Linked DNA regions of Homo sapiens. The protein of the gene in region 2 purifies or fractionates together with the protein of the main gene of each other region. This does not show direct contact. Each region holds a gene or a part of one and is shown on either strand. Other genes may lie near its edges.

Region 1 (7,023 bases), on a different chromosome or scaffold from region 2:
CTCGCTAGCCCTCAGCTGGCTGCTCAGCGCCGCCTCGCTGTGTTGCCGCTCCTCCAGCTGCTCGCGGACCCGGCCCTGCTCCCGCTTCAGGTCGCCCTTGAGCTTGGCCAGCGCCTGCTCCTTGATGGCTAGCTCAGCGGCCGCATTGCTGAGCCGTGCCTGAAGGCTCCGGATCTCAGCCTCGTGGTGCCGGATCGTGTCCTTGGCCTCCCCATAGCTACGCTTCAGGGTCTGAATCTGGTGTGTAATCAGCTCCTGGCGCTGGCACTGGGCTTCAAGCTCACTTTGAAGGTCTTGGTTGACTCTATGGAGCCTCTGCCAGGCACCCGATGGGGAGGCGGCCACTTCAGTCTTAAAAAAACCGATTAAATACTGGTTAGTAACACTCGGGCCTCCCAGTTCTGAGTGTCACACCTCTGGCCAGGAACAACCACAGAAAGCTCCTTGATGGCTTTGGCTTTTATCCTTTGTACAACTTTATTTTTTTTTCCCATTAAAAAAATCCAACAAATTTTCTTTTTTTTTTTTTTTAGTAAGTAGCTGCTTCCAGGTAAACAGAAAACATGGACAATAACATCAGAAAACAGCTTTAACCAAACAGCTTCTAGGAGAAATAAACCAAACAAAACTGAATAATGGAACACACTAAGAAGCAAAACAAAGACTAAAGGACAAGAGAGCGCCAGGAAGAGGGACAGGCGGGAGGAGCACAGCACCTGCAGCTGTTTGTTTCACAAAACAAAAAGTACGCAGTCTTGACAACAAATCCTAAACAAGCGCAGGACACAAGGTGTAGGTAAATGATGCCACTTCCTTCTAAGACAGGAGGAGAAGGAAGGAAGGTAACACTCGGGAGATGTCAGCAAGGTGACATCCAAACATTTTCCTGTGGAAAGTGTAGTCAGTCCTCTAGAGTAACAGGAAGAACTAATCTCTACCTGTAAGAAGTCAAAACGAGGGGGGAACGGGAACCATGGAGTAAGATACAATAATCAACAAAACAAACAAACCTTTGTGGAGTTCAAAATAAGAAAAAGTGAAGCATGCAAAAACAAAACACAACGTAAATGAAACAAAACTCCCCACACTGAAAGGCATGCAGAGACAGAACTCATTAATATAGGGAAAAACAACACAAACAAGAGTGAGCCGAGCCCAGCCTAAGAATCTGGCCTGCCTATGGCTCCCTCTCGGTCTGCTGGCCGGGGAAGCCACAGATGTGACACTCAGTTATGTTAAGTTCAAGTTACACTTCACACTCAATGTCCAAATCATGCAAGCTCCTCCCAGCAGTTAGTATAGCACCCACCCCAGTAGCTGGCTCCTGACCCTTAACCCCACAGACCCCCTGCTCATTCTGAGTCGTGATTAAAAGCATTTCCAAAGCATAAAGGGTGGTGAGAAGTCACAGGTTATTAGACTTAGGGAAAAGGTATTAAAGACCAGCTTTGCCCAGTGCTGACCAACAGGGGCTTCAGTGTAGGCTCATGCAATTATGCAAGTTAGACAGAGGTAGGTTCCTAGGTTAGCAATGTGCAAAGTCCGCTGCTTAGTACAAGTTGAGTATCCCTTATCCAAAATACTTGGGACAAGAACTGTTTCGGATTTTAAAATATTTGCATTCTACTTACTGGGTGAGCATCCCCAATCCAAAAATCCAAAATCTGAAATGCTCCAGTGAGCATTTCCTTTCAGCATAATGTCAGCGTTCAGTTTTGGATTTTGGAGCATTTCAGATTTTCGAATTTGGGATGCTGAACTTTTATCTTTACTACCTGATTTGAAGCCAGTTCTTATAGGATGAGGCCCAATCAAGAATTAAAAAGATGCTCCTCAAACCTGGAGGGCAAGCGCAAATGACCTTGGCAGGGAGGCCCACAGGGAGGCCCTGTTCACCAGGTCTGAACAGGGCATGGCAATGACTATGGCAGAAGAGGCTGGAGAGGAGAGTCTAGGGCATGTGGGGCAGAAAGAAAGAGAAGGCCCAGGGAGCACACAGGAGAAGAAACAGCAGAGAGTCTGCAAAGAGGCAGACTATGGTCAGAGGCCAGCTGAGTGCCCCTGTTCCATCTGCTGCCTGGGACAACTCAGACCAAGGTCAGCGCACTGCGGTCTGCAAATGTAGACAATACGTGACAGAGACTCGGGGTCTAAGAGCCGGAAGGGCCCTCAGGGATCACTGGGTCTAAGTCTACACAGGCAGCAGACTGCCGCTGTAGAGGAGGGGACACATGCACTTGCTTTGGGGGTCAGTAGCAGGGCCAAGTCTTGAACCTAGGACCTTGATTCTAATGTTATACCCTCAGCCTTTGCCGAGAACTTAGGCTCCCTGTTCTGGTACCCCACTTCACTTCTCCTGCAGTATTTATATATCAATCTTCCTATCACAATCTCCTCTACCACTCAATGGGGACAAGAGTATATCTGTTTTATGCCCAATACCTGGCACAAGGCCTGGCACGCTGCAGGAAAGTCAGCAGACATAGGCACGCCCTTGGGCCAGGCTAGCTCCAGCCTTGTGACACCCCTATATCAGGGCTCTGTGGTACAGGATCTCAGTGGAGGTATCCCGGGGTTGGGCTAGTAGTGGTAAGAGCCCCAGCTCTGCCTGCCAGGTGTGGTATAGAAACAGATGGGAATGGGGTCCAGTACTAGCTTTGCCACTGACTTGCTGTTGGTTGTAAGCAGGCACTGGACTTGCTGTGTGATTCAATGTCTTCAATCTGTACAATAGGTCCAATATTACTATAGTGAAAACTATGAGAAATCACATGCAAATGTATGGTATTTACAATAAATGTATATTGGCTACTTTCAGAGTCAAAGGGAAAGGTCACCAAAATCATTTTATTACCAAAAAAAGTCCTTAGATATAGAGGTTTCAGGGAGATTCCCCAAAATGTCATATCAGGAGGGAAAAACAAACAGACCCCCCCAAGCACATTGAGTGTCCAGTCCTGTGGCAGAAAAGCCCAGGGGCATGAGCTCCTGGGAGACACCCCTGCTCAGCCAAGTTTTGCACACTCCTAGCCTGCCTGAGCATGAACCCTTCACACTGAAGCTCCTGAGCGCACCATGGGCCACAGCAGCCCCTCCACCCTACCTGCAGCACGTAGCCCTCACGGGCGCTCTGCTCCCGGCCCAGGGCCACCCTCAGCTGGTCCTGCAGGAGCCGGTTCTGCTCCAGAAGGTCTGAGGCCTCCTTCTGGCTCTGCTCCAGCTGTTGGCAAAAAGACACACACTTTTATGCAAAATGACAATGATAAACAAAGCAGCTGCACAGCACAGACTCTTTCACTGGTCTTCCATGTGGCCCAAGAGTTTTGGAGTCTCCACATTTCAGCAGATGTGCTGATATGGCCTTTACCAGCAGCATTTGGAAGTGAAGGTTCCAATGCAAGCCATCAGTAACAATGGCAGACTTGGTACCTTATGGGCACCAAGGGACTACCTTGTCCTTCCCTACTCCAGGCACCCCTGGATGCCCACATACTTCCCACACCTGCTCAAGGTTCCAACATGCACGCCCTATATAGGTGCCAAGGCCCATACGGGGTGTTCATTTCTGAGAAGGGGAATGTGTCCACTGGGGAACAAGGGTTTTGCATCTGCATCTGGAGGAAGCACCCCATGGGGTCCTTTGGGTGTCCTCAGCTGGTCACACAGGCCAGGCTAGGCTCTACAGGGACCACTGTGAGTGGTGGCCCCAAGCAGGCCTCACTCCAGGGCCCACTATGGTCTCAACTGAAACCACTCCATTTGACCAGCTTTACATGATGGATTCCACAAAGTTCTGTTTGCAAAAAGAGTTCCCGCAGTTCCCTCAAACAAGGTGTGGATACCCATGAGTAAGCTATTTTACACTCTTCTTGCTTTCAACAGCTTCAGCTACTCATTCATCCATCCACCTCTTCCCTACACACCTCCCAGGTGCCTCCTGATGCCTGGCCATGTGCAGGGCTACCCAACCTGCTCCCAGAGCTCGTGCTGAATGGAGCTGTGTGTGTGGTGGACAGTCAGGCCAGTGCCGCCCAGGGTGCTGACAGACTGTGCTGTGAGAGGCGGGGAGACCCCTGACTTTTATTTATTTTTTTTGAGATGGACTCTCGCTCTGTCGCCAGGCTGGAGTACGATGGTGCGATCTCAGGTCACTGCAACCTCTGCCTCCTGGGTTCAAGTGATTCTCCTGCCTCAGCCTTCCAAGTAGCTGGGACTACAGGAATGCACCACCATGCCCAGCTAATTTTTGTATTTTTAGTAGAGACGGGGTTTCACCATGTTGGCCGGATGGTCTTGATCTCTTGACCTTGTGATCCGCCCGCCTCGGCCTCCCAAAGTACCGGGATTACAGGCGTGAGCCACCATGCCCAGCCGACCCCTGACTTTTAAACAGTGAAGACTGACCCCCCAGATTGTTGAGCCAGTGTGTCGCCTGCTGGCTGGCCCATTTTGGTAGCCTGAAGTAATGTGAGTTTCAACTGTTATTTTATTTCATCTTGCCTTTGTTACTTGTTAATGGATGAGGAAAATGAAAAAGTACAAGTATTAGTGCTGGTGGTAACTCAGCCTCATACAGTTAATAAAATACAAAAAAGATGAGAAGCTTGAGGCATACCCAAGTGGCAAATCTTTAACAAGCTACTTACGTAAGAGAACACATTTGAAACACAGTGTTGAAAACTGTCCCTAAATGGAGAGTGAAACAGGGAGTTCTACAAAAACTGTAACGCTACACCTCCCCAGCTACGAGACTCCCTGCCCAGACATGTCAATCTACCACTGAAGTTCTGCAGACTGGATTTCTGCATACATTTCCATGAAAGAACATCTTATTTTATAGTTCGGGGGCCAGCTTGTTCATCTATGTACCTAGGTGCACTGAAGGCCTCGTGGAGGAGTGACAGTCACAGGGCAGCCTTCATCCACAGCCTACCCTGCCTCACCACTGTCTTCTGCTTCATATCCTCATGACCTAGGACCCAGCTGTCATCTCCTGCTGGATGCCCCTGGCTTCAGATCTGATCGGCCGTCCCCAAGCCACTGTAAGAGCACCTGGGGCTGGTCTCTGCCTACAGCTTTGACCTGTCCAAGCCAGGGCTGCGTAATGCAAAAGCCTTGCCCTGCTCGCGCCCCTCCTGCCATCGGGAGTCAGAACGAGGAAACCATCTAGGCCCTGCAACGCCGCTTGCCTCTCAATGGCAGGGGCCCCCACCATCGGAAGAATTCCTCTGTGCCTGGAAGGCCCCTTTCCCTGCCCTGCATGCACTGGCACGCTCCCACAGCTCTCAGGTCTGCCTCAACTATGAGGACTCATCTATGCGTCTGTCTCCCCTAGGGGTCTGCAAGTCCCTCGCGGGTAGGACTGTCTAGATGAACCCCTCAGGCCACAGCTGGGCACAGCTGATGCTCTGGAAAGGCTGCTGGGAGCAGGGTGGGGATCTGGTCCCAGGCTATTACCTCCTTCTCGAGCAGAGAGGTCAGCTCGTGTGTGGAGAGCCGGTCACCCCCATCTTCAGAAGACAGGTGGACGGGGGCGATGGGCACCTGCTTCTCTTCCCGGAGAGGTGTGGTCTCCACCTGATGCCACCGCTGCTCAATCTCCACGTGGACGTTATGCGTTTTGAGGTCGCTCATAGGCAGCCCTGGGCTCCGGTCCACCTCCATGCGCAGGGCTGCATCCTCAGTGCCTGGCCCGTCTGTGGCGTCGAGCATCCCGAAGCGCTTGCGGCGCTCCTCCCGCCTCCGTGCACGCTCCCGCTCCAGCTCCCCAGGCTCCGCCTCAGGGCGCAGGGGCTCGTGGGTGTCAGCAGGCCCCACGCCGCCCACCCGCTCCTGAGCCAGGGCCTGCTGGATGGGACGGAACTCAGCCCAGTCAAAGGTCTTGGAGCGGCCCTCTCGCCTCCGCTCCCGTGCGCGGCTCCTCTTCTGCTCAGGGTCCGGCTCCCCCAGCTCTGCCTCTTGCTTCTCAGTAGGCCTCGGGCAGGTCTCAAAAGAGCAGCTGCTCTTGTTTTTTTCCTCTGGCAACGAGCTGTGGGGCAGGAGGATGGACATAGCCTGTCAGGGGCGGCTCTGGTGTGGCCTGCCAGGCAGAAGCTGGCAATGCTGAGCCACAACCCAGCCCCTGTGAGCACCACATCCTTTTTCTATCCTAATCCCAGCTTCCTAAGTGCAGGGAGGACAGGAATACTCTGCCTTTACCCCACATCCCTTCCCAAACTGGTTCTGAGTGGGGGAGGGGGAGGGGGACGGGGAGGGGAAGGGGAAAGGAAGGGAAAAGAGCCTCAGAAAGCTGAGGTTTCCCACATAATGACACTGGGGGGGTCCCTTGACTGAAGAGGCTGTGAGGGGCTCACTGTGGTGGTCCCGTTGCCAGGGTATGGAGCCAGGGGAGTCCCAGGACTCCCACAGCCTCAGAGGCAGGACGGGCCAGCCCTGCCTTGCTCAGGGCCAAGAACTACATTAGGCTGCACCTGGGCACAGCCACCGTACCTGCCAGGTGAGGCCTGGGCCCTGTGCACCCCTGGACTGGACAGTGGTGACAGAATGAGGGAAAACTAGCACTTTCTAGAAGGGCTTACCTTTTAATAAGCAGGTAACGTGATCAGATCTATGTTTTGTTTTTTTTTTTTTTGAGATGGAGTTTCACTCTTGTTACCCAGGCTGGAGTGCAATGGCGCGATCTCGGCTCACCACAACCTCTGCCTGCTGGGTTCAAGCGATTCTCCTGCCTCAGCCTCCCAAGTAGCTGGGATTACCGGCATGCGCTACCATGCCTGGCTAATTTTGTATTTTTAGTAGAAACGGGGTTTCTCCATGTTGGCCAGGCTGGTCTCAAACTCCTGACCTCAGGTGATCCGCCTGCCTCCCAAAGTGCTGGGATTACAGGCGTGAGCTACTGTGCCCAGCCTGAATCTATGTTTTAAAAGCCCAATCCAGCTGCTGGCATGACAGATGGATCAGTATGAAAGACTGGGACCTCCTAAGGGTGAGGGAAACAGGAGGCCCAGGTGGCCACGAGTTCAC
Region 2 (7,023 bases):
ACTTCTGGCCAGGCCTTGGGTAGAAGAGGAGATACAGAGATGAGAGGAACTGATGGATCCTGGTCTCAAGGAGGCAGACTAGGGTGGTGAGGGGGAGGTGGCACTAGGGTAGGGCCCCAGGTCTGGCATTTGCCAGGTTAGGGAAGCAGAGCAGCTCAGAGCCCAGGGGTGGGCAGGGGCCTGTGTGCTTCTGGTTGGTAACTCACTGCAGGGAAGGCCAGTTGGGCCTGCTGGCTCGGACCTCGTCAGGAGCAAGCAATTGGTGGGAAAGAAATAGTCCCAGTGCTGTTTTGCCTTTATTGCTAAGTTTGAAGTTTTGTAACTCTCTTTGGCATTTTTTGGTCCATTTTTCAGAATTAGATGCAGTTTTCCCCCTGGTTTAGCATTTCCCTGATGCTTTGGATTTTGTATGGCAGCAATGCTGGTCAACATGCCTGCGGAGCTAATACCTGGGGCTTCCAGTGCTCCCCGGACTGCCTGGGCTCAAATCCCACAGCCATCACTCACTGGCTGGGAGACCTGGACCAACTGCGTCCACTCCCTGGGCCTGTGGCCCTCATCTGTGGACTGGGGGTACTGTGAAGATTAAGTGTTAAGACACTAAAGAACCCTGGGAGGGTGGGACATGCGTAAGCACTGGCTCAGCCTCCCACTGTCGTGCCGCTTCTGCCAGACCAGTGCGCCTGCAGATCTAACCCAGAGGCATCAGGAGCAGATGCAGGGGCCACAGGGCAGCAGCCACGATGAACCACCATCTCTTTCCACCGCTTCGTGCCTCGGGCCCCTGGCGTTTCTTTTGTCCTGCCTTCATTGGTTGCTGTGCTCTCACAGGCCTGGATCCAGGCTACCGAGGCTAGGATGAGGCCTGTAACCCCACACTACCATGTGGCAAACAGCCAGAACACCGCAAGAGACGTAAGTCAAGCCACACTGGCTGGGAGCTAATTTTGCATTGTTAAAAAGCAGGATAACACAGAAAATAGAACGGACAGGAAAGCTTTCACATTGTGCAAATGTGAACTGGTGATTAGAAGGTTCATTTCAATCAGTTTGCTTTTGACAATTTACTTGGATCTGGAAGAAACATTTTAAATCTACAAAATTACTGTCAAACCCAATAGGCAGGATTGAAAAGGAGTTAGAAATTATAAACAAATAAACCAACAAAGTCGGGGGTAACAACCCCAACCAAAGATATCAGAAACTGGATGAAGATGGCTTAAAGGCACATTAAAAAAAAATCCAAAAAAACAAAAAAACCCAACTTCTCAAACTGGGCAGAGGCAGCTGATAACCAGCCCAGGGGAAGAGTGTCTGGGGACAGCAGGCTGGCACTCTGGGTGCTGAGGGGAGGAGGCTGAAGACTGGTTAGAAGCTAGGCCATTGGGCACAGCCCCCAGGCCCTGGCTTCCCTGCTGAGTCAGGGGTTGGGGTGGTGGTGGTAAGGCAGCCTTTCCCACAAGTGTAGCCTAGGGGCAAGGGCACACTTCAGCCTGTGTGGGTTGAGTTCTGGCCCAGCTTCCCTCTTGGAGTGGTAGATGCTGCTTCTGGGGGAGCTTCACAAAGAGGGCAAGAGAGGGAAGAATCTGGGTTGCTGTGGGTCCACTTTGGCCCTAGGCCACTCCAGCTTCCTTAGGTGCTAAGATAGCAATTTTCTTTCCTTTTTTTTTTTTTGAGACAGAGTGTCACTCCATCACCCAGGCTGGAGTGCAGTGGTATGATCTCAGCTCACTGCAACCTCCACCTCCCAGGTTCAAGTGATTCTCTTGGCCTCCCCAGTAGCTGGGATTACAGGTGTGTGCCACCATGCCTGAATAATTTTTTTATTTTTTAATAGAGGCAGGGTTTCACCATGTTGGCCAGGCTGGTCTCAAACTCCTGACCTCAAGTGATCCTTCGGCCTTGGCCTCGCAAAGTGCTGGGATTACAGGTGTGAGCCATCGTGCCCGGACAAGATAACACTTTTCAAATTGAAGATGTGAAAAGCCATTTTGGTAAACTGCAAATGCATTAAAAAAGATTCCTATAGTGGGTGGGGTGGTAGCACACATCTGTGGTCCCAGCTACGTAGGAGGCTGAGGTGGGAGGACTGCTTGAGCCCAGGAGATCAAGGCTGCAGCTGCTGTGAGCTATGATCGCACCACTGTAACCCAGCTTGGCTAACAGAGTGAGACCGTGTCTCTATTAAAAAAAAAAAAAAAAAAGATTATCATTGAAGACCATTCAAAGAAGAAAAAGACATTGCACAGAAAGTCTTCACAGGCAGAGCACATGTAATCAGGATCCAGGCTGTTTTATAAAACTATGGTTTCTGCTCCTAGCAACACAGATATGTGTGTGGGTTGGTGTGTGCATGGTAGGTGTGGGCAGGTAGGTGTGCACACACACAAGTTGCTGCCTGAGACAAGGCCCCACCTGGCCCAGGGGCATGCCAAGTGCTACTCTGGGGTCTGGGCAAAGCTGTGGCTCTCCTGAGGGCTTCTCTGGCAGTTGGGGACCCCTAGAGAAAGGCTTCTCTCATGGCCCTGCGGGGCTAGCAGCTCCCAGACTACATATGGGGGAACCTGGTGGTCCTGGCCAACAGCTTCTCCAGATGCCCTTCTGTGTGACTAGCCAGTGCCCTGCAATTCACAGCCTTGGCCCAGCAAGGTGAGGAGTCCAGGCACTGGCTTGGCAGCACCTCACTATTTCTGAGTCTTGGCATTGGGCATCCGCTTTTTTTTTTTTTTTTGAAAAAGAGTTTTGCTCTGTCGCCCAGGCTGGAGTGCAGTGGCGCAATCTCGGCTCACTGCAAGCTCCGCCTCCCGGGTTCAAGCAATTTTCCTGCGTCAGCCTCCCGAGTAGCTGGGACTACAGGCGGCTGCCACCACGCCCGGCTAATTTTTTGTATTTTTAGTAGAGACGGGGTTTCACACTCTTAGCCAGGATGGTCTCAATCTCCTGACCTCGTGATCTGTGTGCCTCGGCCTCCCAAAGTGCTGGGATTACAGGCGTGAGCCACCATGCCCAGCCTACTTTTTTTTTTTTTTAAGAGATGGGGTCTTGCTCTCTCTTCTAGGCTAGAGTACGTGGTATGAACATGGCTCACTGTATCCTCTTGGGTTTAAGTGATCCTCTGCCTCAGCCTCCCAAGCAGCTGGGACTATAGGTATGCAACACCACGCCCAGCTAATCTGCTACTTTTGTTTGTTTATTTATTTGAGACAGGATCTCGCTCTGTTGCCCAGGTTATTTATTTGTTTGTTTGTTTGCGACAGGGTCTCGCTCTGTTGTCCAGGTTGGAGTATAGTGGTACAATCATGATTCATTGCAACCTCAATCTACTGGGCTCAGGTGATCCTCCCACCTCAGCCTCCCAGAGAGCTGGGACTACAGGCATGTGCCACTAAAATTAGCCCAGCTAATTTTTTTTTTTTGACACAAAGTCTTGCTCTGTCACCCAGCCTGGGGTACAGTGGTGTGACCTTGGCTCACTGCAACCTCCACCTCCCAGGTTCAAGTGATTCTCCTGCCGCAGCCTCCTGAGTAACTGTGATTATAGATGCCCCGCCACACGCCTGGCTCATTTTTGTATTTTTAGTAGAGACAGGGTTTCACCATGTTGGTTAGGCTGGGCTCGAACTCCTGACCTCAAGTGATCTGCCTGCCTTGGCCTCCCAAAGGTGCTGGGATTACAGGCGTGAGCCACCATGCCTGGCCTAATTTTTTGTATTTTTTGTAGAGACAGGTTTTGCCATTTTGCCCAGGTTGGTCTCATACTCCTGGGCTCAAGCGATCCTTCCACCTCGGCCTCCCAAAGCTCTGGGACTATAGGCATGAGCCACCACATCCAGCCAATTGGCTGCTTTTGACAATGAAGCCAGGGCACTGGGGAAGGGCCTGCAGTGACTCACAAGTGAAACTAGCAAGAACTTTTCCAGACTTAAAAAACAAAAAAGACCGCCCACAGCCTGCAGGTTGGAAGCCCTCCTCCCCTGGATGCTGGGGGAGCCCACCTACCAGCCTTGAAGCTCAGCTCATCATGCTCCTGCCCCTCATAGTCATACAGGGCCCGGACTCGCACTTCCGTCCCCGAGGTGGCGTCGTCGTCGAATGGATTCGAGTCCCCATTGGCATCCGTGGAGGAGAAGGGGTTGTTAGACTCATCGTCTGACCAGTCGGTGGGATAGCTCTGGGTCTTCTCGTAGCTGCTCACACTGCAAGAAAGGGGAGGCCACAGGGCCCTCAGCACAGGGCGGCAGAGGGTGTGAGGCCCCCGCCCCGCAAGGGGAGGGCACTGGAGCCTTGGGGCTCAGGGCTGAGGGCTCCTTCCGAAGGAGCACAGGTGGAGCCAGTGCTAGTGTGAGTTCATGCCATCCACACTCATCCTGAGCCATCAACAGGCTTTCCAGGGGCAGGCGGCTGGAGATGCCCACAGCAGAGGCCAACCTGGGGCCTCACTCTCTAGTCCCCAGCACAGACTGCGCGTTGTCTGTTTTCCTGTCATGGTGCTGCTAGGGCCTTGAAGGGTTAACAGAGGACAGAGAAAAAGCAACTTAAGATTGTTAGCTGTGCCCTCCCCGAGGAATGGGGGTGCCAGAGAGCCTGTGCCAGAGAGCAGGTAGTGGGCCAGGGTGCGGCACGCCAGGTGCCCACTTCCTGCAGAGCTCCGTGCATTGCCGAGTGCCGAGGGGTGAGACCCCTGGACAGAGAGAGAGGAAGAGAGACAGAGTGAGCGCGGTGGGAGCAGAGGAAGCATTTGTTCACCAACTTTTTGGCCTTAGTGTCGTCCTTCTCACTGACGGTGCTGCCCGTGTCGTCCTCATCCTCGAAGGGGTTGTAGCTGGACTGTGACTGCGCAGACTGGGCGGGGTTGCTCGGGACATTAAGGGTGCTATGGAGAGAGAGAGCTTTCAGGGGATCCCAGCTCTGCAGGGGCCCGTGAGGGTCCTGGCAACTCCTAGCTGCAGGATCTCAAGAGACAAATCAGCTCCTCCTGTGACCGGAGGGGACCGTGGTGTTTCAACAGAAAGGTTACTATGGCAGAATGCGGGCAATACTTCAGCTGTGAAACACGGTCCAGGAGCCTAGGAGAGGACTTGGTTTCCCTTTTCCTTCCTTGCACCTGGAGACAGTCCGTCCAGAACAGGGGCCCTGGGGTGGCCCAGGGGCGGGTGACAAGCCACAGCTGGAGCAAAAGTCGTTTCCAGGTTCAGGGCTTCTCCTCTGTCCTGACTCCCACCAATGTGAGCTGGGGGGGTCAAAAAGCCCCTCAGGGTCTCCTCTGAGAGTGACAGTGTGGGAGGGGCCGGCTCCCATGGATGAGTGGGAGAGGGCTCTGAGCTCTTCAGCCCACACGGCCTCCTCCTGACTACTAAGGGGTTCAGGGCTCGCTCTTCTGCTCTGTGGAGCTGAAGCCTCCAAAATCAGGGCCAGGGCCTGCGGCACCGTCTTTTCTAGATAGAAAGAAGATTCCTTTGGTGCTCCAGAGGGAAAATCCAGTCGTGCAACTGCCTACTGTTTGCCAGGCCCAGTGTGGGAACCAGAGAGATCTGGGCCAAGCTCTGCCTGAGGGCTGGGAGCCGGGAGCTGAGTTACACACTACGAAGACCACAGGCAGACCATCAAGCAATCCAATCAGACAGGCACCAAGGGCCCTGGCACCCCACCAAGTAACTGATCCTAGGACCGGGCTACCCTGGCCAGCAGCACCTTCTACTTCCAAGACCAGGGCCTCAGGGCACAGGCCCCCAAAGCACTGGATGGACTGCTCAGCCTGAGCACCCACCACCCCAGAACCAAGGAAGGGAGGCGAGGACATGCCTCCAATGCCACCAGGGTGATCCTGAGTGGCCAGTAACTGCCTCATCCACTTCAGCCTGGCAAGTGGTACTTGACCTAGGCCTGCTGGAGGCCAATATCCAGGCCACATGTCTGAGCTCACCGGCCCTCCTCCCTCCTTGGCACCTTTCTCTAGCAGACTGTTGTGAGACGGCACTGGTGGGGGCGGCTGGATTGTGCAGCAACCCTGGCCAGCCCAGGGCCCCCAGGGTCTCCTCTGAGGCAGTGTTTCTTCTTTCCCATTCCCACCCCCAAGCATACAGGTGCTGGCCTGATCCCTGGGACAGGCACTTACTGCCGAGCCCACCTGCCCAGACAGCGTGCAAAGCAGCGGAATGACGACAGCCACACCTGCTGGGGAGCCTGGGTGGGGGCTTCAGTGCCTGGGGCTGCAGGAAGGCCAAGGGAACCTGGGCTAAGCCTTCTTAGGAAGCCCCCGTATGAAATGACTATTACTGAGTGTCACATGGAGGCCTGTGGGCAGGTCCTATAGGAAGACCTCCTCTAGCACACACTTTCCAGAAGGTTCTAATGACCACAGTGCCACCCTTATATCTCTCATTTTCAGCCAATGACTAAGTCAGAAATAACCAATGCTCCTAGTGAAGAGGTAATTTGGAAAGGAGATGCCTGGCAGTCCTCTCCTGTCCCTCCCTCGACTGGCGCCTGCACACAATACAGAGTGAGCATGAACCTCGGCAGGACCTCAGCTGCCTGAGGGAACCAGGGTGGCACCTCCACCAGTGTCCGGGCAGGGCGGTGCTATCCCTGGGGACATGAATGCCAGCCCTGTCATCAGCTCCTCCCCACTCAGGTCTGAAGCTCAGGGCCAAGCCTCCCTCTCTGGATCTGTCAGCAGCTCTGGCACCAGGCAGGAAGACGACCTTCCCTGGAGATGCCCCTGGGCCACGGCCCACAGAGCTCAGGAGCCCAGGAACCTCCCAGGTGTCCAGGCTGGGCCACGGCCCACAGAGCTCAGGAGCCCAGGAACCTCCCAGGTGTCCAGGCCGGGGCTGCCCTGGACCATGCAGATTGCCCAGGGCCCCCACCATGGAACGGCCTCTTTTGGATGGAGGTGGCGCCCACTCACCTGCTGGGCTTACTCGGCAGAGACTGGTCGCCTGTCTGGTTGATGCCCGTCAGGGTGACGCCGTCAGTGGCCTTCTTCTTCTCTCTCCGGCTGAGGGTTCGATTCAGGTCTGC
Region 3 (7,466 bases), on a different chromosome or scaffold from region 2:
TTCTCAATGAAACAAAATCAAAAATTTTTTTTCATGAATAGACATTTCTGTGTTAAGGAAACTATAATATTTCAACAAACATATCTGTTGAGTTTATTCTTACCTACTAATTGTTGGTCAGTTTGAAAAAAAGGCATTAAAATAAGATTACAAATTGGAATAGGAGGGAAGGGAAAAGGAGATATACCCGTGATAAAGACAGCAGTGGCTAATTACAAAACCTGGCCCAGGATTCCTGACAGCCAAAGAAAATATTTTTGGTACTTTGAAATAAAGCTCTCATGAAGCATTTATATAGGGAACATCAAATTCTAACAACACTTTCTATGTGTTAATACATGTAGGAATACTCAAATTATGAAAGCACTACACAGAGATGAATGGATAATTAACTATTATGCATATATTACTGAATTGAGAATAAAGCTACAATTCTGACTTTCAGCTCCCTGTTTTCATCAACAAAGTCTTATGCATAAATAACATAACATATTTTCTGAGATTGGGCAGTTTCTATGAAATACAAAGTCTGAAATAAGACTTTTATTAAAACTGAAATGTAACAACTCTGATCTTGTTATATAAAACCACAAACACACACATGTACACAATCTAAGAAGACATAAAATAAACACTTCCTTTAGGTTGTAATGTGCAAAGGTGAAATGCACAGAAAGATATTAACCATCTTTTAAGTGTAATTTTTCAGTTTTAAATAAAGCTTTTCAAGTGGTACTTATAGTGGAATAAAAACATACTTAAAATAAGCATTTAAAAATGTTTTCATTATTCCAAATAGTTTACAAAAATTTTAGACAAACTCCAACCATTATGGCCCACTTTAACATGCCTATCTGCTTTTTATATAAGCACACAGGTATTTATTAAGCATGTAAACCTCCTTTCCATTTATTACTATCCAGGAGGAATATGAAACCTAGATTATTATTCAGAGAGATATATAGCTAAGTGGACCTTCATTTAGCTTCATTCTACCCATTGATTTTGGTACTAACCCCATTAGGTAACCACGTGAAGAATAAGTCTTCTTTCTCTAGTAAGACAAACTCACCTTCCATCTGTTCCATTTAAAATGGCCTACCAGCCCCTTTGAGTTGAAGTCTTTCCCTGAATCAAGTTCCTTTTAGGATTCTTCTGAGGAGGGAAGGCCTGAAGGTTTCCTTCATTCCTTTATTCAGTACACAAATACTGGTGGAGAGTCTCCTGTGTTCTGGGCTATGCTTTCAGGAGACAAAGGATAAGACGTGGTCCTTTAAGAGTAGGCTGGGCACTGTGGCTCACGCCTATAATCCCAGCACTTTGGGAGGCCGAGGCAGGCGGATCACAAGGTCAGGAGTTCAAGACCAGCCTGGCCAACATGGTAAAACCCCATCTCTGCTAAAAATATAAAAAATTAGCCGGGCACGTGGCACATGCCTGTAGTCCCAGCTATTCGGGAGGCTGAGGCAGGAGAATCACTTGATCCTGGGTGGTGGAGGTTACAGTGAGCCAAGATCATGCCACTGCAGTCCAGCCTGGGTGACAGTGAGACTCTGTCTCAAAAAAAAAAAAAAAAGAGAATAAACCCCTCCAACTCTGCATTATGTAAATGAATAACTGAAACAAAGTGTCATGGGTCCTTGCCCTACCTAACAGAACCTACTGGGGGCCAAGAAAGGGAAGGGCTACTTCTATTTCTGCAATGAGGGAAGTATTCCTGAGGGGATAATACCTATGCTTAGGCACTTAAAATGATCGGCTGGGTGGTGAAATGAGGGGGAGATTCCCAAACGGGGAAATTGAGCGCAATCTTGGAAACGTGGGCAATTTTGAAACAGCTCTGCATAACTAGAAAGATTGGAAAACAGCAGTTTTCTCCTGTTATGTGAAAAGATTTATAGCAGCCAGGCATGGTGGCTTATGCCTGTAATTCCAGCACTTTGGGAGGCTGTGGTGGGCAGATCACCTGAGGCCAGGAGTTCGAGACCAGCCTGGCCAACATGGTGAAACCTTGTCTCTACTAAAAATATAAAAATTAGCCAGGCGTGGTGGTGGTCACCTGTAATCCCAGCTACTCGGGAGGCTGAGGCAGGAGAATCACTTGAACCCCAGAGATGGAGGTTGCAGTGAGCCGAGATCGCATCACTGCACTCCAGCCTGGGCAACAGGAACAAGACTCCTTCTCCAAAAAAAAAAAAAAAAAAAAAAAAAAGATTTATAGCAAATCTGTGATTATTATTTTGCTAATCACTGGCTACAGTGAGGATAGCTTAGTACCATTATGTGAAGACCACCAAGCTTGGTGGTGCTCTTAAGTGGTTTTGCCCAACATGAGCTTATTTCTTGCTTATGTGGATTCTGTTGTAGGTCCTGGGACTCTCCAGGGCAGCTGTGCTCTGGGTAATAGTTTAGCATTCCAGTCTTGTGTCACCTTCATTTTAATACATGCTTTCATGATTGCAGTAGCAAAGGAAGGGAACATAGAGACTCAAACACTGGCAGTAATTTCACCAGGAAATAAAGCATTTCATGTCTGTTCACATTTCCACTTATCAAAGTCACAGGGTCATACCTAATTTCCATGGGGTGGAGCATATAGTTCTCCCTAGGACCAGAAGGAGGACAGCAAAAAGTGGTAAGCACTGAAAATGCCTTCAGTGGTTACGAAATGTTATGAATGTTTTATGACTAAGATTAGCCTAATCTTACTGGTATTAGGGTCCATAATATTACTAGTATGTCATAAATTAAGGCTGAAACTAATTAAAGATTTAATCTTGTCTTGTGATTGAAAGTTATGGACTTTCAAGTAGTTTCACTGTTACTCAATATTTGCATCATTGTCTGTGCAAGCAACTGTAAAAGCTTGCACAGCTCTGTATTCAGAAGCATAAATGATTCATGAAATTGTTTAAACAGAGTTATTGTTTAAAGACTAAAACCCAGAGGTATTTAAATAAATTGCTTTACTCTTAGTTAAAATCTCTAAAAGCAACTTTTTCTAATATGGTTCCAGTATTGTAATCCAAATGAGCCATGTGTTTTTTTCTTTTCATATTTAAGATGCACTGAAAGGACATTATGCACTGAAAGAAATAAATACCAATGCCTGCGTGTGGTAGACAAATGGCACATTGCTAGGCATTTAGTTCAGCAATCTTTTTTTGTTGCTGCAATGGATAACCAACTAAAGGAGCATTAATATCAATTTAATTGTAATACCTGCCAAATGTTATTCTATCAGTGGCTAACACAGGTTTATTACTTGATGTTAGTGCTACAACAGAAGTCCCCTGCAGGATGTTCCTTCCTGTAAGATCTCTCCATCAGTTTAATCCAAATATGTTTTTAAAACTCTAATTTTAAATTCATTTCTTAATGTCACGTTGTTTTCTGAAAACACATTTTTGGGCCCATCAGAATGGCGCGCATCTTAAAACAATTGGCGCTTATGAAAAATATAAAATATGTAAATATATTAGGGTGGTGCAAAAGTAATTGCGGTTTTGTCATTACTTTTTAAAAAAAAAAAAAATGGCAAAAACCGCAGTTACTTTTGCACCAACCTAGTACCTGTCTGTCAGGTGTAAAGAATCATCTAAAGGGCATGCACGTGGATACTAAAACGTACAAACAAGCACACAGCTGTGTCTGATTCCTTTACCCTTGTAAAAGTTCCAATAAGTGAATACAATCTATTACTTAATTCTTAGTTTATAGACTGTCATTAGACATACTGTTGTCCAGTTCTCATGTCAGAGCTGTTATAGGCTTTTACAAAAAATGCCTCTGAAGACAGGGCAAGCTTAAACCTGCCACCAATTAGAAAGATCTGTGTCACAGGTGCGCTTTTAAAAGAATGGCAATCTTAAAGGTCAAGTTAAAAACACAAATTTAAAAAAACGATCCTGGACGTCGAGGGTCGGACTCTAGGGGGGGCAAGCTGCAGGCCCCACTCTGCGAGTTTCTGACCGCATTCCGCGGAGGCCCCAATCCTCCCCGCGGATCCTGGCAAGGCAGGTAACCTCCCTTCCCCCGCACCTGTCCGGTTCAGGCGCACCAGCCTTCCCGAAGCGCAGCCTAGCGGTGGGAATGGGAACACCTCGTCTGGGAGCTTTCTTTCGGTTCAGCTTCCCCAGCCGGACCCCAAAGACCCGAAGCCCTGGGGGAAGGAAATTCCAACTTGCTCCCGGCCCACCCCCGCCCCGTTCCTCTCTCCGGCTCGCTGCTTCCCTCGCTCCAATGCCGCCGAGCTGGTCCCCACTTATGTGCGGCCGTGCTGCAGAGGCGGCGGCGAGCTCCCGGACTCCGGGCAGGGAAATGGGGCAGGGTGAGTGAGAGAGCGGGCTCCAGCGAGGCCCCCAGCGCCCAGCCAGCGCCCGCACCCCGCCCGCGGGACAGGGGAGGTGCTGAGTCGGCCCTGCCCGCGCTGGGCTGAGCCTCGCAGGGGTTGCCGCTTCTCCATTCAAGTCCTGGCTTGAGAGCCGAGCGGCAAGAGCGCGGGCCGGGGAAGGGAAGAGTAGGAGAGGAAGCCGCGAGGGAGAACAGGCGAGCTACTGTCTCCTTTGGAAAAGAACGTAGGAGCCTTGGGTGGGAAAAGAGAGATCAGCCCTCCCAACTTCTCTTCGGGAAAAGTTTTCCTAGGGCGTTTTGTTTGTGCAAACTCGGCCGGAGGAGCCTGGGAGTGCGCTGCCGGCGTGGCAGCGGTGCCCGTGCGCCCGGCCCCGCTCCTCCTCCTTTTCCAGCCCCGGCGGCTCCTCTCCCTCCGAGAGGCGCCAAATGGCTACCCAGTAAACCCCACGGGGCGGGGGCTGCAGCGCCACCGCCTCCTCCGCCGTGCTCTGGGCGCCCGCTAGACCTTGTAGAGACGGCGGCGGCGCCCGCGGGCTGGGAGCCGGGGCCCGCAGGTGGAAGCGCACCCGGGAGGCGGGCCGGCCGGGGCTGGAGCGGCTCGGGCGGGCTCTTGACGCTCAGCCAGCTTCGCTCCGGCCTCGGGAAGGCGCGCGTCCCGCCCTGACCCGCCGGCCTCTCCCACCCCAGCAGTGACGCGCCGCCTGGGAGCTGGAGCCCGCGCAGCGCCCCGCAGGGCGATGGACGGCCGAACCCCGCGCCCGCAGGACGCCCCAGCCAGGTAAGCCCAGAGCGCCGCGCCGCCTCTCACCGGGGAGGGCGAGGCCGGCGAGGACAGCGAGGCCTCGGCCGTTTCACCTGGCTGGCAACTCGCTGCCCTGCCGGCGGCCTGACTCACTGACTGTCCTCCACGCGGCCGGGGAGGCTGCTTCCTCCCGGCCTTCTCGGAGGCCGCCCGGGCGGAGGGCTCGGGTCGTTTTTGGTTGCCTTCCTACCGGGGCTGCCCTGGGTTGCTACAGGCCAGCTGAATGCCAGGAATTGGGTGAGGAGTCCGGGAGCAAAAATTGTAACAAAGGGACCCTTGTTTGGGCTCTGGGGGAGCGGTGGACGATACCTGTAAGTGAGCTCCTGGGGAGGGAGGGCAAAAGTTTCCTTGGTCATGGGCTGAGGCCCAGGCAGGTGAGCAATGTCAAGGTGACTGTAGGGAGTGGGCTTTCTGCAGGCGGGTGGAGGGCGACAGGAGGGTGTGCCAGCTGTCAGCCCGCATGACAGTTCCGGGAGCGAGCGGGGTGCGCGCCTCTGATTGGGGGTGTGTGTGCCTGTGGCCAATTGCTGGTTCCAAAACCCAGCGCAAATCAGATTGCAAACAACTCTACTTTTCTTTTTATCCTCACATGTTTGAGAAGAGAGGAAGGGGGCTGTCACATGGTGAGTTAATATTAAATGAGGCATGTCTTCCTGCCAGATATGCTAATAGTTACCTTGTTAAGCGTTTGAGTAAACAGTAATGAGAACAGGTAGTTCTGCAAGAGATGAAGAAAACCTGAAAATAACCTTGGTCTTAGTAAATAGTTCAGGAGTAACCTGGATGCTAGTTGAGTTTCTCAAGTAGGAAACTCGTTTGATGTAGTACAAGATTTTTCCCCCCAGCATAAGTGTTCCTCCAACATAGTTTATTTTCTTAGTTAATCTGAATGCAGAAATGCCCTAATGAGAATACGAGCATTCCAGAAATAGAAACGTTAAGGAAAAATCGACGTTGTCACTAATGAATGAGACTTGTACAGTTTTCCTGATTTAAGAGTGTAGAAGTCATTTTTCCCTGGAACATGACAGGCGTTTCCTTAGAAGCAAGTCACAGCATGTTTATTCATCAGAGACCATGCGAACATTGGCAGCTGTCTAGAGGAAACATGGAAAAGTCTCAAAGCAACATGACTAATCTAAAAGATATTTAGTATAATTTTTACATAGAGGAAACATGTAGTGTATTAATTATTTCATTTTGCTCAAATTAACTTTCTCCTTTCTGCAAATATTACTCCCACTGTTGACTTTCATTTCTTTTCTTTCCCCAGGTTTTTCATTGCTTAAATATTTTCATATATCCTGACATATATTCTCACATTAGGATGAGTAAAGAAATATATCGGTAGAAAGATATTGAGCATACAAGCAAGGTTCCTAAGTGGAGCTGCAAAATTATGTGAATTGACGATGAGACAGCTGTCAGGATACCGAAATGTATTCAGGGATTGCAAAATGAGATAGAATTAAATTGGATTTGGAAATGGATTAGGTTAAGGTACTTTAAAAAACAAAAAAGAAAGAAAAACATACCTGCTTTCACAAAATACACCCATGGGTGTTCAGAAGTCACTGGGGACTTTTAAGTAAAATAGGTGAGGTCAGATGGCTCTGTGTTGAAGAAACAGAAGAACACTTTTTGCTGGCAAGCATAACTGTAGTAAGAACCTTCAGACTTTACTCTTGATATTTTATTTTAATGTAGAGACAAGGTCTTGCTATGTTGCCTAGTTGATCCGAAACCCCAGGCTTCAAGCAATCCTCTCACCTTGGCTTCCCAAAGTGTTGGGTTTACCAGTATGAGCCAGTGCGCCCAGCCACTTTTGAGAATTTAAAGGTTAAACTGATAAGTTCTTTGCTTAAAAAGAAAGTACAAAAGAGCCTTATCTAATTTGTCAAGCATTTGTAAAGGACTTTTGCCGTCCCCTTTTCAAATTTAAGTAGGGAAAATCTGTCAACACCTTATCTAAAATAACACAGTAGTTCTATCATTTTGCCTTACATTATTCTACTCAGAGAAGTTATCATTACCTGAAAAATATCAACATGAAAAAATTACCTCTCTACTTCATTTGTCTTATTTCACTTGTCTAACTTGTCCTTTGGCATATTCCGAATGCCTGTCATATAAGATTTGTTGAATATTTAATATTCAGTATTGCTTCTCTTCTCTCTCAAAAACCCAAATTATAAAAGGTTTAAACTGGGGGAAAAATATCTAGATAAGGGTATTTGGGAAGTGGCAGGCAGAAATCTTAATATGTTATAATTGTTAGGTTTTGGAGATAAATTTCTTGCTATAAAACTGA

What was found. The genes of interacting proteins can lie anywhere in the genome.
Region 1: the proteins of PACSIN2 (region 2) and MPRIP purify together in Homo sapiens (affinity purification with mass spectrometry; 4 studies listed by BioGRID and IntAct, with this or other methods). This does not show direct contact.
Region 3: the proteins of PACSIN2 (region 2) and COBLL1 purify together in Homo sapiens (affinity purification with mass spectrometry; 4 studies listed by BioGRID and IntAct, with this or other methods). This does not show direct contact.

What each region holds. Positions count from the first base shown.
Region 1 is NC_000017.11:17,157,437-17,164,459, reverse strand, and holds part of MPRIP (myosin phosphatase Rho-interacting protein), read right to left. Parts: intron 6,029-7,023; coding exon 5,458-6,028; intron 3,221-5,457; coding exon 3,104-3,220; intron 352-3,103; coding exon 1-351. UniProt on the Homo sapiens protein: Targets myosin phosphatase to the actin cytoskeleton. Required for the regulation of the actin cytoskeleton by RhoA and ROCK1.
Region 2 is NC_000022.11:42,872,138-42,879,160, forward strand, and holds part of PACSIN2 (protein kinase C and casein kinase substrate in neurons protein 2), read right to left. Parts: coding exon 6,911-7,023; intron 4,874-6,910; coding exon 4,751-4,873; intron 4,197-4,750; coding exon 4,000-4,196; intron 3,394-3,999; exon of another isoform or gene 355-3,393; intron 323-354; exon of another isoform or gene 1-322.
Region 3 is NC_000002.12:164,838,821-164,846,286, reverse strand, and holds the start of COBLL1 (cordon-bleu protein-like 1), read left to right. Parts: upstream 1-4,463; 5' UTR 4,464-4,577; intron 4,578-4,854; exon of another isoform or gene 4,855-5,040; coding exon of another isoform or gene 5,041-5,090; coding exon 5,091-5,131; intron 5,132-5,464; exon of another isoform or gene 5,465-5,538; intron 5,539-7,466.